Linked DNA regions of Homo sapiens. The protein of the gene in region 2 interacts with the protein of the main gene of each other region in a biochemical or structural test. Each region holds a gene or a part of one and is shown on either strand. Other genes may lie near its edges. The genes, in order: RGS14 and RAP2A.

What was found.
Region 1: the proteins of RAP2A (region 2) and RGS14 form a complex in vitro, tested with the Homo sapiens proteins (one study listed by BioGRID).

Annotation. Positions count from the first base shown.
Region 1 is NC_000005.10:177,360,731-177,368,016, forward strand, and holds part of RGS14 (regulator of G-protein signaling 14), read left to right. Parts: intron 1-2,322; exon of another isoform or gene 2,323-2,394; intron 2,395-5,232; coding exon 5,233-5,254; intron 5,255-5,446; coding exon 5,447-5,625; intron 5,626-5,977; coding exon 5,978-6,070; intron 6,071-6,160; coding exon 6,161-6,304; intron 6,305-6,683; coding exon 6,684-6,827; coding exon of another isoform or gene 6,828-6,983; coding exon 6,984-7,095; intron 7,096-7,286.
Region 2 is NC_000013.11:97,464,950-97,469,695, reverse strand, and holds the end of RAP2A (ras-related protein Rap-2a), read right to left. Parts: 3' UTR 568-4,746; downstream 1-567. UniProt on the Homo sapiens protein: Small GTP-binding protein which cycles between a GDP-bound inactive and a GTP-bound active form. In its active form interacts with and regulates several effectors including MAP4K4, MINK1 and TNIK.

The DNA.
Region 1 (7,286 bases), on a different chromosome or scaffold from region 2:
GTGAAACCCCTTCTCTACTAAAGATACAAAAAATTAGCTGGGCGTGGTGGTATGTGCCTGTAGTCCCAGCTACTTGGGAGGCTAAGGCAGGAGAATTGCTTGAACCTGGGAGGCAGAGGTTGCAGTGAGCCGAGTTCGTGCTACTGCACTCCAGCCTGGCGACAGAGCAAGACTCTCCACTAGCTCCATGCACCGTGTTGTAGGAGACGGTCCCTAAAGGGTCTGCAAGCTGGAGGAGGGAGGGCACGGCATAGGCCTGGCTGTGGGCAAACACAGGGACAGGGCCCTAGGGGAGGCTGAGAGTTAAGCCTGGAGGGGCAGTTAGCCTGTCCTGTCCTGTCAGAGGGCCTAGTTAGTCTTCCCCTCCTGGCAGGAAGACCTGCAAGGCAAAGCCCATGCAGCTCTCTCTTTGTCCCTCGCGTCCAGCTCAGGGCACTCGAGTTCAGGGTGGCCTTATACAGGGGCAAGGCCAGGGGTCATCTCCACAGGCTGGTTCAAGTTGAAGGGACCAGACACCCAGATTCTGTGTGGACATCTCCAGACAGGGTCTTGCAGCCCCTCAAGCTAGGATGAAATCCTCAAGAGGATGGTAGAGGGTGCCCAGCATAGAAGATGCTCAGAAAATTGGCCCTCCTTCAAGGTCTGATCCCTCTAGAGGGCACAGTTCAAGAGGAGCCCCTGAGCAGGTCATGCCAGATTAGACTTGCCCACCTGTGCCCCAAGGGCTGAGGCCCTGGGCCTCCAAGCTTCCTTGGTCCACAAAGGGAGTCAGCTTGGGTAGAGGGTGGGGAGGCCTCAGGCTCCAGAATCAGGCAAACTTGAGTTCTAATCTCAGTTCTGCCACATCTCAGCTGCATGGCTTCTTTGGGCCTCAGTTTCCTCATCTGTAAAATGGGGGTAATAATACCTGCCACACAAGATACCCGTAAAGATGGAGGGAGGACATGAATGTGTGCTGCCAGAGGGTGCCTGCCACACAGTCAAAGCTCAGGAAATTGGGGCCTTACTCTCACCTTAGCATTTTCAGGTGCCAGCAGCTCCCCCAGGACCAAATTCCTAAGAAAAAAATATGACCGGCCGAGGTCCAAGCCTGGGTCCGTGTGTCACTGGCCACCACACCCTTCCTTGCCCTTTCTTCCCCTTTTTCTCCATTCACTCACCACTTCTTCTCAAGCAGGCTGAAGCAGGGGAGGCCAGCCCTGCTCAACACAACTTCCCCAGGCCCTGCAGTGGCAGCCAGGGCAGGCCAGAGCCCCTGCAGGGCCCCTGCACACCTGCACCTCACTCCGCTGTGGGGTGCTGCTCTGATTGTGGCATGCCTGGTGCTTTCACTCATGGGGCCTCATTCAAGCTTCACAGCAGCCTCAGGAAATTGGGAGTGCTGAGCCCCATGCTACCCAGGGAAAACTGAAGCTCAGAGAAGTTACTTGTTCCCGAATAGCAGAGCTGGAATTGGATTCCACCCCCACTCCCACCCATCTCCAGATTTCTGTCCCTACTCAATTTCAGCTCCAGCTATGCTATCAACAACTGTCAGGGCAAGAGAGGCTCAGGATGGAGAGCTACAGGTGGCATTCAGGGGCTGAGAGTCCCTAGTGAAGGGGTGCCAAGGCCAGGGTCCTGATGGCTGCTTGGGAGCACGAGGCAAAGACGGTGCTTCTTGAGGAGGGAGTTCAGATCTGACCCCTCCCACCAACCAGGCCAGCACTCCAGGGGTGACCAGACTGGCAGGGAGAGAGGCCGGGACATGGGTGGATAAGCACGTGGTGGGAAGGGGCATTCAAGGGGCCTGGTGTTTGGGGACGACTAATGTCAACGGGCAGAGATCGGGGAGCAATTCCAAGCGAAGAGCAGGAGCAGATACCCAGGCACTGGCAATGGCAAAGCCGGAAGCAGGGGTGTGGGGAAAATAGAAAAGTTCGGTGAAGTGTAGGGTGGAGGTGAGGGGGAGGAAAATGGGTGAGGCTGAAGGGGGTTCATTAGTCAGGCCCAGGTAGGGTTTTAGCCGTAACCTGGCAACCGCAACGTGCCTCCGGGGGCAGGGAAAGGGCCCGGGTTGGCACCGTGGGGAGGGGTGGGGCCTGGGGAGGATCTAGCAGGCAGCCCCACTTAACGACATTCAGTTAAGCAGAACGTGGAAAATAAACCTGTGAGGGCCAAACAAAATTGAAGTGCTGGCTGGCGCCAGCTCCAGCGCCTATCACCCCTGACTCGGGGTTAGAGGGCAGGACAGAGGCTCAGGGTGTGCGCGAGGAGGGCAGGGCCAAGCAGCCCAGCGGAGGGGGGCGAGTCCGGGTGATTCTCGGGGATCTGGGGGAGGGCGATGACTGCGTCTCCGAGGCTGGGAACACCGTGGCGGTGCAGCCGGGGGAGGAGGAGCCCGGGCGCGGGCAGGTAGGTGCAGGCTGCAGAGGAACCTTGCGGCCGCGCAGGGAAAGGCTTCGTCCCGTCCCTCCTCGCAGCCCTCTGCCGCCCTCGGAGTGGGGACTTTCTCCTGTCGCCGTGGGAAGCACCGACTTTCGTTGGGGGATTTGACTCTGCGGGGAGGACAGAGCGGGGAGCACGAGAGCAGGGCCAGGAGGGGCGGGGCCGGAGACGGGGGCGGGGCGCGCTGGGCCCGACGCCCCGCCCAGCGCGCTCTGCACTAACTCGCTGCCCTCCACTGCAACTTCTTATTCCCGGGCTCCAGATGGGAAGCGAAGCTCAGGGAGGAGCCCGAAGTTGTAAAACTGGAAAAAGTCAGGGCTGGGGTTTGAATCTGGATCTGAGAGACGCCCCCCGCCCCCAACACCTGTGCTCTTTCCTTCTATGGCGGGAGTGGCAAACTCGAATGTGTAGCGGGGTCAGGCATCAACACTGACACAAGAACGACATTAATAGTAACGTTCCTTGAACATTTACTACACGCCCGATAGTGTTCTGAGTTCTTTATATATATTTCACTCATTTAATCGCACCAATCCTTCGAAGTCAGGACCATTATTTGCTCCATTTTTAGAGAGGAAAAAACTGAGGCACAGAGAGGTTAAGTACCTCGTCCAAAGTCACACAGCACAAATTTGACCTCCCAAATTTGAGCCTGCCTCCCACTGCCTCCACAAGTAACATAAATGCATTAAACTGGCCCCAGAGGCCTCTGAGAGGAGTGTAAGCCCTTTTGGGGAAGGTGGTGGCTGCTCAATCCCGGACAAGGTTGTCCTGCTGGGAAGGAGCTGGAGCATTACAGTCTCACGGAGCAAGTGGAATTTAAAATCTCTTGCTTTTTAAATGTGGAAAATACCTTTAAATAAAAATAATAATCATCATAATAAAACCTGAGAGGGCCAAGGTAATAGTAATTTCCCACATATCTGCAGACCGGATCTGGCCCACAGATGGCCGCCCTGTGACCTGAATACTCTCAGGGTGGGAGTAGGAAACAGAGAGGAAGGTTCCATTCAGGAGGGTGGGGGTTGGGGGGCTTTCCGGGGTGGAGATGTTTGCAGGCCTGTTTCCAGTTGGGATGGGAATAAGGGGCTGGTGGTAGGAACTTCTGTGACAGGGCATGGTGAAAGTGTAGGAGGTAAGCGGGAAGTAGGAACTGGGGATGACTCAAGCCCTGATGTTGGAAGCCCGGGTGATGGGAAGAAAGATGGGGGCAGGGAAGCTGGTTTGGTACTGTGTTTTGGTGGAGGCAGAGGGAGCTTCCATTTGGGACTTCCATTTGGGAGCTTGAGGGCTTGTGGGACATTTGAGGGGGGACTCGCCCCCCTCCGCTGGGCTGCCTGGCCCTGCCCTCCTCGCGCACACCCTGAGCCTCTGTCCTGCCCTCTAACCCCAAGTCAGGGGTGATAGGCGCTGGAGCCGTTACCAGGAAGTTGGTTATGTGTGTCTGGAGCTGTGGATCTGTGGATGGGACAAAGTGCCCAGGACAGAGCCAGAGAGGGGTTGAGGCCACATTGCATGAGTGGGAGATAGTGGGGAAGCTGGAGGAGCTGCTAGGAAGGTAAAAAGAGAAACAAGAGAAACCACCGCAAGAGTCATTTTGAGAGGAGAGTTTTTCTGTTTCACTAATGATTGGGATTCCCAGAGAAACCAGAGTTGTGCACTGGGGGCAAGGATGGAGTTAGTTACTGCAGCAGTACTACTCACAGAGTAGTCCCTGAACCAGCAGCATCAGCATCGCCTGGGAGCTTGGTAGAAATGGACAGCCTCAGGCCCCATCTTGGACCTACTGAACCTGAATCTCCAGAGGTGGGGTCCTCCCACTCTGCACTGAAGTTTGAGAACCACTGCTCTGTACTATAGACCAGCATCTTGTGCCCTCCCACGGTGGTAATGGGACCCTGGGCCCAATAGGCAACACGTGCGATAGTAAGATCACTGGCTGCAGAGACACCTCTCCTTCCTCAAAGACAGCACATGTTTATACAGCCCATATCACATGCTGGCCCATGTTCTAGATGCTGTGGATATATTTTTATTTGATTTTCTTTTATTGAGACGGAGCTTTGCTCTTGTCACCCGGGCTGGAGGGCAATGCCACAATCTCAGCTCACTGCAACCTCTGCCTCCTGGGTTCAAGCGATTCTCCTGCCTCAGCCTCCCGAGTAGCTGGGATTACAGGCATCCACAACCACATCCAGCTAATTTTTTTTTTTTTTTGTATTTTTAGTAGAGACTGGGTTTCACCATGTTGGCCAGGCTGGTCTCGAACTCCTGACCTCAGGTGATCCACCCATCTCGGCCTCCCAAAGTGCTGGGATTACAGGCGTGAGCCACCGTGTCCAGCCAATGCTGTGAATATATTAAACTGACTTGATCTTTACATCAAGATGGAAGCAAATGGTTTGCCTCCATTTGTAAATAGGCATTATCTCCTATTTACAGATTACAGATGGAGGCAAACAAGTTAACTAACTTGCCCAAAGTTACACAGCTAGTAAGTGGCAGAGACTAAAGTCTGTTCCTACCCACCATGCTATGCACACCTGGCTCACCCAGCAGGGGCTGGGGGAGGAGGGAACCAGGGGCTGCTGGAAGGTACCTGCCATAAGTCCCAGTACTTAGTGGTTGGCACAGGATGGAAGGGGAGCCAGGGGCAGACTGAGGAAAACCCTGACCAAGTAGAACCTGGCCGGGGATGCCCAGGTGGAGGAGAACGCAGTTCCAGCTCCTGGGAGTCGGGCCCAGAACTGTCCCCTGGGAATCCTCACTGGGCTCTTCTGACTTTCTCTGTTGGGTCTCTTATAGGTTCTGGCTGTGTCAGATGGAGGTAAGTGACAGAATGTGTGGAGAACTGGCTGAGTGGGAGGGAGGAGGGAGGTGGAGATGGGTGGGGACACCCCTGCCACCTGCTATCTTTCCAGGGAACATGGCTGCAGAGTGGATGCATGGGGGAGGGTGGGTTGTGCCAGGGGCTGGGGAAGGCAGCAAGGCTCACCCCAACTTGTCCATCCCCCTGCAGAGCTGAGCAGCACGACGGGGCCCCAGGGCCAGGGCGAGGGCCGCGGCAGCTCTCTCAGCATCCACAGCCTCCCCAGTGGTCCCAGCAGCCCCTTCCCAACCGAGGAGCAGCCTGTGGCCAGCTGGGCCCTGTCCTTCGAGCGGCTGTTGCAGGACCCGCTGGGCCTGGCTTACTTCACTGTAAGCCTGGGGTAGGGAAAGGGAAGGGGGGACACGGGAGAGGGCAGGGCGTGGATGGAGCTTCAGGCTGGCCAGAGTGGGGTCCTCTGTCAGCTTCCTCATCTAGCCTTCCTGCAGCACCCTCTTCCTCTTCTCCCAGCTGGGAACTTTTCTTCCTTCTCCCTGTCCTTGTCTCTGCCTCTCATTTTCTCTCCCTGTCTTCAGATCGGTCTGGCTCCGTCTGTCTGTCTGGCCCTGTCTGTCTGGCTTGGTCTCTTGGCCCTGTCTCTGTCCCAATCTTTTTGATCACATCCCCCAGTTTGGTCTCTGTGTCTCTGAGTCTCTGCCTGCCTCCCCCTCCTTCCCCTCCCAGGAGTTCCTGAAGAAGGAGTTCAGCGCGGAAAACGTGACTTTCTGGAAGGCCTGCGAGCGCTTCCAGCAGATCCCGGCCAGCGATACCCAGCAGGTGGGGGAAGGGGGAGCTGGGGCCGAGGGCTGGGGAGAGGGGAACTGGGCCACGCTCCCTGACCAACTCCTCCTGTCCCTCCTCCTTCAGCTAGCTCAGGAGGCCCGCAACATCTACCAGGAGTTCCTGTCCAGCCAGGCGCTGAGCCCAGTGAACATCGACCGTCAGGCCTGGCTTGGCGAGGAGGTGCTGGCCGAGCCCCGGCCGGACATGTTTCGGGCACAGCAGCTTCAGGTGGGCGATCCTGGGGGGATTGGCCTTGAAAGGGAGACAAAAGGAGCAGGGGCGGGGTCGGACCCTGGCGGGGAGTCTGAACTACAAAGCGGAGGGGGCAAATTTGGAGGCGGAGACAGAGCCAAATGCCGGGGCAGGCAGGGCGGAGCTCAGAGGGCGGTATCAGAGGCACGGGGAAGGACAGTTAGAGGCGGAGCCTAGCTGAGCTCGGGGCGGGCTTGGACCCCGGGGGTGGGTATAGGAACTGAGGTCGGGGCGGGGCTTGGGAAATCCAGCCCTAGGTTTGGGGCGGGGCCAGCCCCAAGGACCCGGCCTGGGTGCAGGCAGCCCAGCGCCCCCACCCCAGCCCCGGCTCACCTGTTCCGGGGTCGCCCCGCAGATCTTCAACTTGATGAAGTTCGACAGCTATGCGCGCTTCGTCAAGTCCCCGCTGTACCGCGAGTGCCTGCTAGCCGAAGCCGAGGGACGCCCTCTGCGGGAACCTGGCTCCTCGCGCCTCGGCAGCCCTGACGCCACGAGGAAGGTGCGTGGGACTGGGCGAGGGACTGGGCGAGGCAGGGGGTCCTGCGGACCGCGTGCAAGAGGGGACGCCTCCGGGTGCAGATCTGCGAGTCTGTGCCCACGGTCTGCATGCGGGCTGGGGCCCAGCCCGGTGCCAGCGCCTCCCCTGTACCCACAGAAGCCGAAGCTGAAGCCCGGGAAGTCGCTGCCGCTGGGTGTGGAGGAGTTGGGGCAGCTGCCACCCGTTGAGGGTCCTGGGGGCCGCCCTCTCCGCAAGTCCTTCCGCCGGGGTGAGGGCAGGAGCGAGCAACAGAGATGTGGGGAAGGCGGGAGTTTGGTTAAATTTGGGGAGTGCCCCCTTCCTCCTACGTGGCCCACAGTCTGTAAGTCTGTGAAAATTGAAACCCAGGTCCCAGTGACCACCACACTCCCCTGGGTGGTTCGGGTCTTGGGCTAGACCTCAGACGTTTGGAAATCTCCA
Region 2 (4,746 bases):
GCTAAACCAAGAATCTTTCCTTCAGTTTTATTCCCAACTCATACATACTAAATAGGTCTTCGTATTTACTCTTTCAAGCAGCTAGTCCTCTACCTTTTTCTCTGCTGAGAAATCTTGGAGGAATCCTTAGAGGCTAACATGAAGACTACTAAGAAAATATAGAAAGAAATAACACAGCGTCTTACCTAGAATAGCAGCAAATCTTTTAAAACTCAATACCTCGATGTTGGGGATGTTGAATATTATCTAAAAACTATTTATAGGCCAGGCATGGTGGCTCACGCCTGTGATCCCAGCACTTTGGGAGGCCAAGGTGGGAGGATCACAAGGTCAGGAGATCGAGACCATCCTGGCTAACATGGTGAAACCCCGTCTCTACTAAAAAATACAAAAAATTAGCCAGGCATGGTGATGGGCACCTGTGGTCCCAGCTACTTGGGAGGCTGAGGCAGGAGAGTGGTGTGAACCCGGGAGGGAGCTTGCAGTGAGCAAAGATCACACCACTGCACTCCAGCCTGGGTGACAGAGCGAGACTGTCTCAAAAACAAACAAAAAAACCACAAAAACTATTTATGAAAATATTTATTAAAAATACTAGATAATATTCAACGATGTAAAACCAGTTGGAATGATCCATTTAAGAGATGAAGAGCAACTATGTTTTATTAGTATTTATGTGGCAACATATTTTAAATTAAGAAACGAGGTCAACAGCTTCTTTCAGAAGTTTGTGGTAATATTCTCTGCTTCATAGATCCTAGAGGTCAGTTGGGTTCCAAATTGGGCAGCACCTTACTCCTTTAGCTACATATATTTTCATTCGTGGACCTCTAACAGACAAATAATATAACTTGAGAGAATTTCAGAGTACTACTTTTTAGCCTCAAAGACGTTCTTCCAACTATCCACTATTGATACATTTAAATAATTTATTAAAAAATTTACAAACACTTCAAATAAAATTATGAAGTTCTTCAGAAGATATTCCTAAAATATAGGCATGTTTTCCTTTAAATATCTGGGATTCTATCTACAGTGCCTCTGTTATATTCATTCAAATTATTCTTATAATCTAAAACAATGAAGCTTCTCAACTGGTGGAATGCTGCCAGAGGATTTCAACAGAGTTTGAAGGCAACATAACCAAAAGGCATAGTTTAAATTGGCTTAGGAAATGAATGGGCTCCTTATCAGAGCAGCTGAAGGCTGTATACAATTAACAGCATCTGTCAACTTTCATAGGGCCCCATATAGAACAAGCAGGCCCTACAGCCTGGCGGCAACCTTCAGCTTCTGGCACCTTCGGATCCACATGACCTGAAAACAGAAAGACGGCTTCAAGCCATCACTAGAAGGCCTCTGAATCATTTTAGTGATATTGCTAATTAATGTTAATTATTTGAACAATTCTGTTAACCTTAGCATCAGGCTTTAAATTAACCAGCTACCATTCAAAATATAAAATCATTTGTAGAGATAAGTTTATATTTATAATAACTGATTTTACAGTCTCTTACATGTTATTTTTATTTTTAAAGACTATGAAAATTATCTACCTACCTGCCTTTTTATATGATGAACTCTCAAATCAGCTAAAATATTTTTGTATGAAGAGTACTAAATTCATTATATGGCAATTTTTAATTGTTTTTGTATATAATACATTTCTCTCATGAGCATGTACAAAACAAAGCAAATCCAGAGTTTCATTAAATAAATTTATTTGTTAAAATAATTTAACTCCAAATACAACTGTTGAATTTGCATTGAGTTATAACTACAATTCATGTTTTAATTGAAATGTCAAGGTTTAACAACTGACATTGTTACAAAACAATAAACTTGTTCAATTTTAAATGGTCAGTTGTATTAGAGCGCAACAATTAACTGTGAACTATATCTCTGGGAAACCTCAAATCAATAATGATAAGTCTGTTTCCAAAACCCACTGCAGTCATTCTTGAAACCCTGATCAAGATTTAATAGATGAACAATGACATGTTAAATAAAAAAAAAAAGACCTCCATAGTCCTTAATGTTTGATTGGCTAAGGGACAATTAAAGCTTACCCAGTGCTAACACAAGACTGCTGATAAGAACAAAAAAATTAAAAACACACACATAAACAAAAAACAGCAACAAACAAAACAAAGCACTTTCATATTCATACATACACTGACAACATTAACATTCATACTGGAAAACCCTTGAAAAGAAATACCAGACAGCCTTAGGCAACATTTCTTTATATAGAAAAGCAAATATCAGTAGTATTACCACAGAAAGGTGATGGCAACTGTAGCAATTTGAGTCAAAAGTTCAGTCCTAATTCTACAAACCAAAGGAGAAAATCATCAAAGCACCTTTCAATAGTTTAAGAAAATATTTTATGTAATACTTTTGATCAGATGCTGGCTTGTTTTGTATAAGTTGAACAAAATGAAAGGCATCAGTTACCATCACTATCACAGTTTAAAAGAACCCAAAAGTTGCAACATCAAAAGAAAAAAAAATTCAAAGATGCTGCCTTTGTATAAAAGTAAAAAAAAGAAAATCTTATCACAAGAGCTAAAGAAAAAGTGGGTCTTTGGATCAAACCATAATATTTTTAAGGCATGTTAGAAAAACTTTCACTTATCTAAGTTGCTAGTCTGATCAGGGCATAAAATAAATAGTGACACAAGGTCAACTTTCTTCTGTAGCCACTAAGGTTTCGTATGCCAACAAATGTAATCTTCCTGTTCTTAAGTGTTTTATTACTGTAATATCTCAACAAACACATTCATTTGCCAGCTGAGTTATATATTCATACCAGATGGATATGAATTTCCAGTTTCGGGATGTCCTTGATGCCTTGGTCACTAAATATGCAGGGCTGCGTGGAAACACTCATCAGGCAGCCAGATCAGTTCTTATTCATGTCTTGACAGTAAAAGCCCACCCTGTCATCTGACACAAATGTTTTTAACTATTAATACAACTCAAAATTTTAGGTCATCTTTTCCACTTTACATTCTGCCATATCTTTCATATTATTTAACCTATTTTCACATCTGCATAGCAAGCCATAATGTCAAACTGTGGAATCTTTATAGATATTTCTATTTTGCAATCTTACTTGTCAAAAATTGCTATGAATTATAGAATTCTAAAGAATCATTCTGAGAAGTTAGAGGAATCAAAACTCAACCAATTCACTAACAAATATTTTTATTTCCATAGAGAAATCATATATCTTGAATCTACAACTTCTCTACATGTTTGAATCAAACCAACTTTTACACAGTGAAATTCGTTTCAATAAAATTGGTTAAATTTTTTTGTCCTATAAACAAGGTGGTTCATAATTGAGGATTATAAAAAATTATACTGAAGAATGTAAATATTCAAAAGTCAAAGATTTATGACAGCTATGGCCTGGTTTCATTCACGTATCTCTTCAGTTTTTTCATTATGAAAAATACTATCAATCTTTTTTTTTTTTTTCACCCTCTAAGCTTAATGCCAGTTATTAAACACTTGGGGGGCTACCAATGATTTCATAAAAGTATAAAAGACACTTTAATAATTTAAAAGAAAAAAGTTTTTGATACACTATATTCTGCAGTATAGATTCTTAGTATAGGCAATTATCTCTGACTTGTGCCAAATTCTTAGGAACAATAAACACACATGCACACACAAACACACACTCTTCTCTCAGTTACACACGTAAGACCAGAGGTTACTTGCACAAGACTGTGAAACCAACAAAATGTGGGGTGGTGTATAGATCGCAGGCTCAGTGATATTGCAGTTCTGAAGGCCAAATTCTTCTCCCAAGGCCCAGCTCAAGATAATCTTTTCAGCATTTATGTATAACTAAGTTAGCTGAAGACCCCTCTATACTTGATTGTAAAACTTATGAATAGGTTTTTCCTGTGCCATTAGTCATGCAAATGATAAATACTTCACGACTATGAAAACCAAAAATGTCAGAGCTTGAGCACCTTTTCAAAACAAAATTTTCACTCCAGCTTTATTTGACGCTTCAGTAATCAGGGCAAAATTGTTCTAAGAAAACCTTTATATAATTCTCCAGGAAAATTAAAGGTAAAAGGCTTTTGTCCCTTACCTTCCACTCTATAATTTATGTTCACTTTTAAGCCCAAATTATTTCACATGGTTATTCAATTTTTAAAATGCCTGCAATAAAGCTCTGCTACAGCAAATACTTGATTTTGAAAGCAGGTTAGCCACGGGTCACACTACAACCATAGCCCTTAAAGGCGAGAAGGAATTTGCTGCTTTAATGAACTTAAAAATGCCAGATATTCGTACTGTCCTGTGAGGTTTCTGCAAACGGGAACATGTGGATGCAACATGGCTTCATCTTCCTTACATGATGGTACTAGTTTATCTATTAGAATGCTTCTTGTTAGTAAGGCTAGGTAATCTCTTCCCATCACAGTTGCTTCCCTCTTGTTCAGTAAAGTTATAAAGACCACCCCTAACAGAGGGCGGGTTTGGGGTTTTAATTCTGATCAAACCCTTGTGAAAGCCTCCATTTTCTGTGGCAAAGCAGGTGAATTAACAAATTCTAAAGCCAGACTATATTTTTACATAACCTGTTCTGAGTTTTGCTCTATCAAGGATTGAAGCATGAGTTAGTTCCATGTCACAAATTAGAATAACAGCTACAATTAAGCATCAATTTTGAAAAACAGAAATGTGTTAGCTGAGCAAAGAATCTCCCTGTAATGCTGT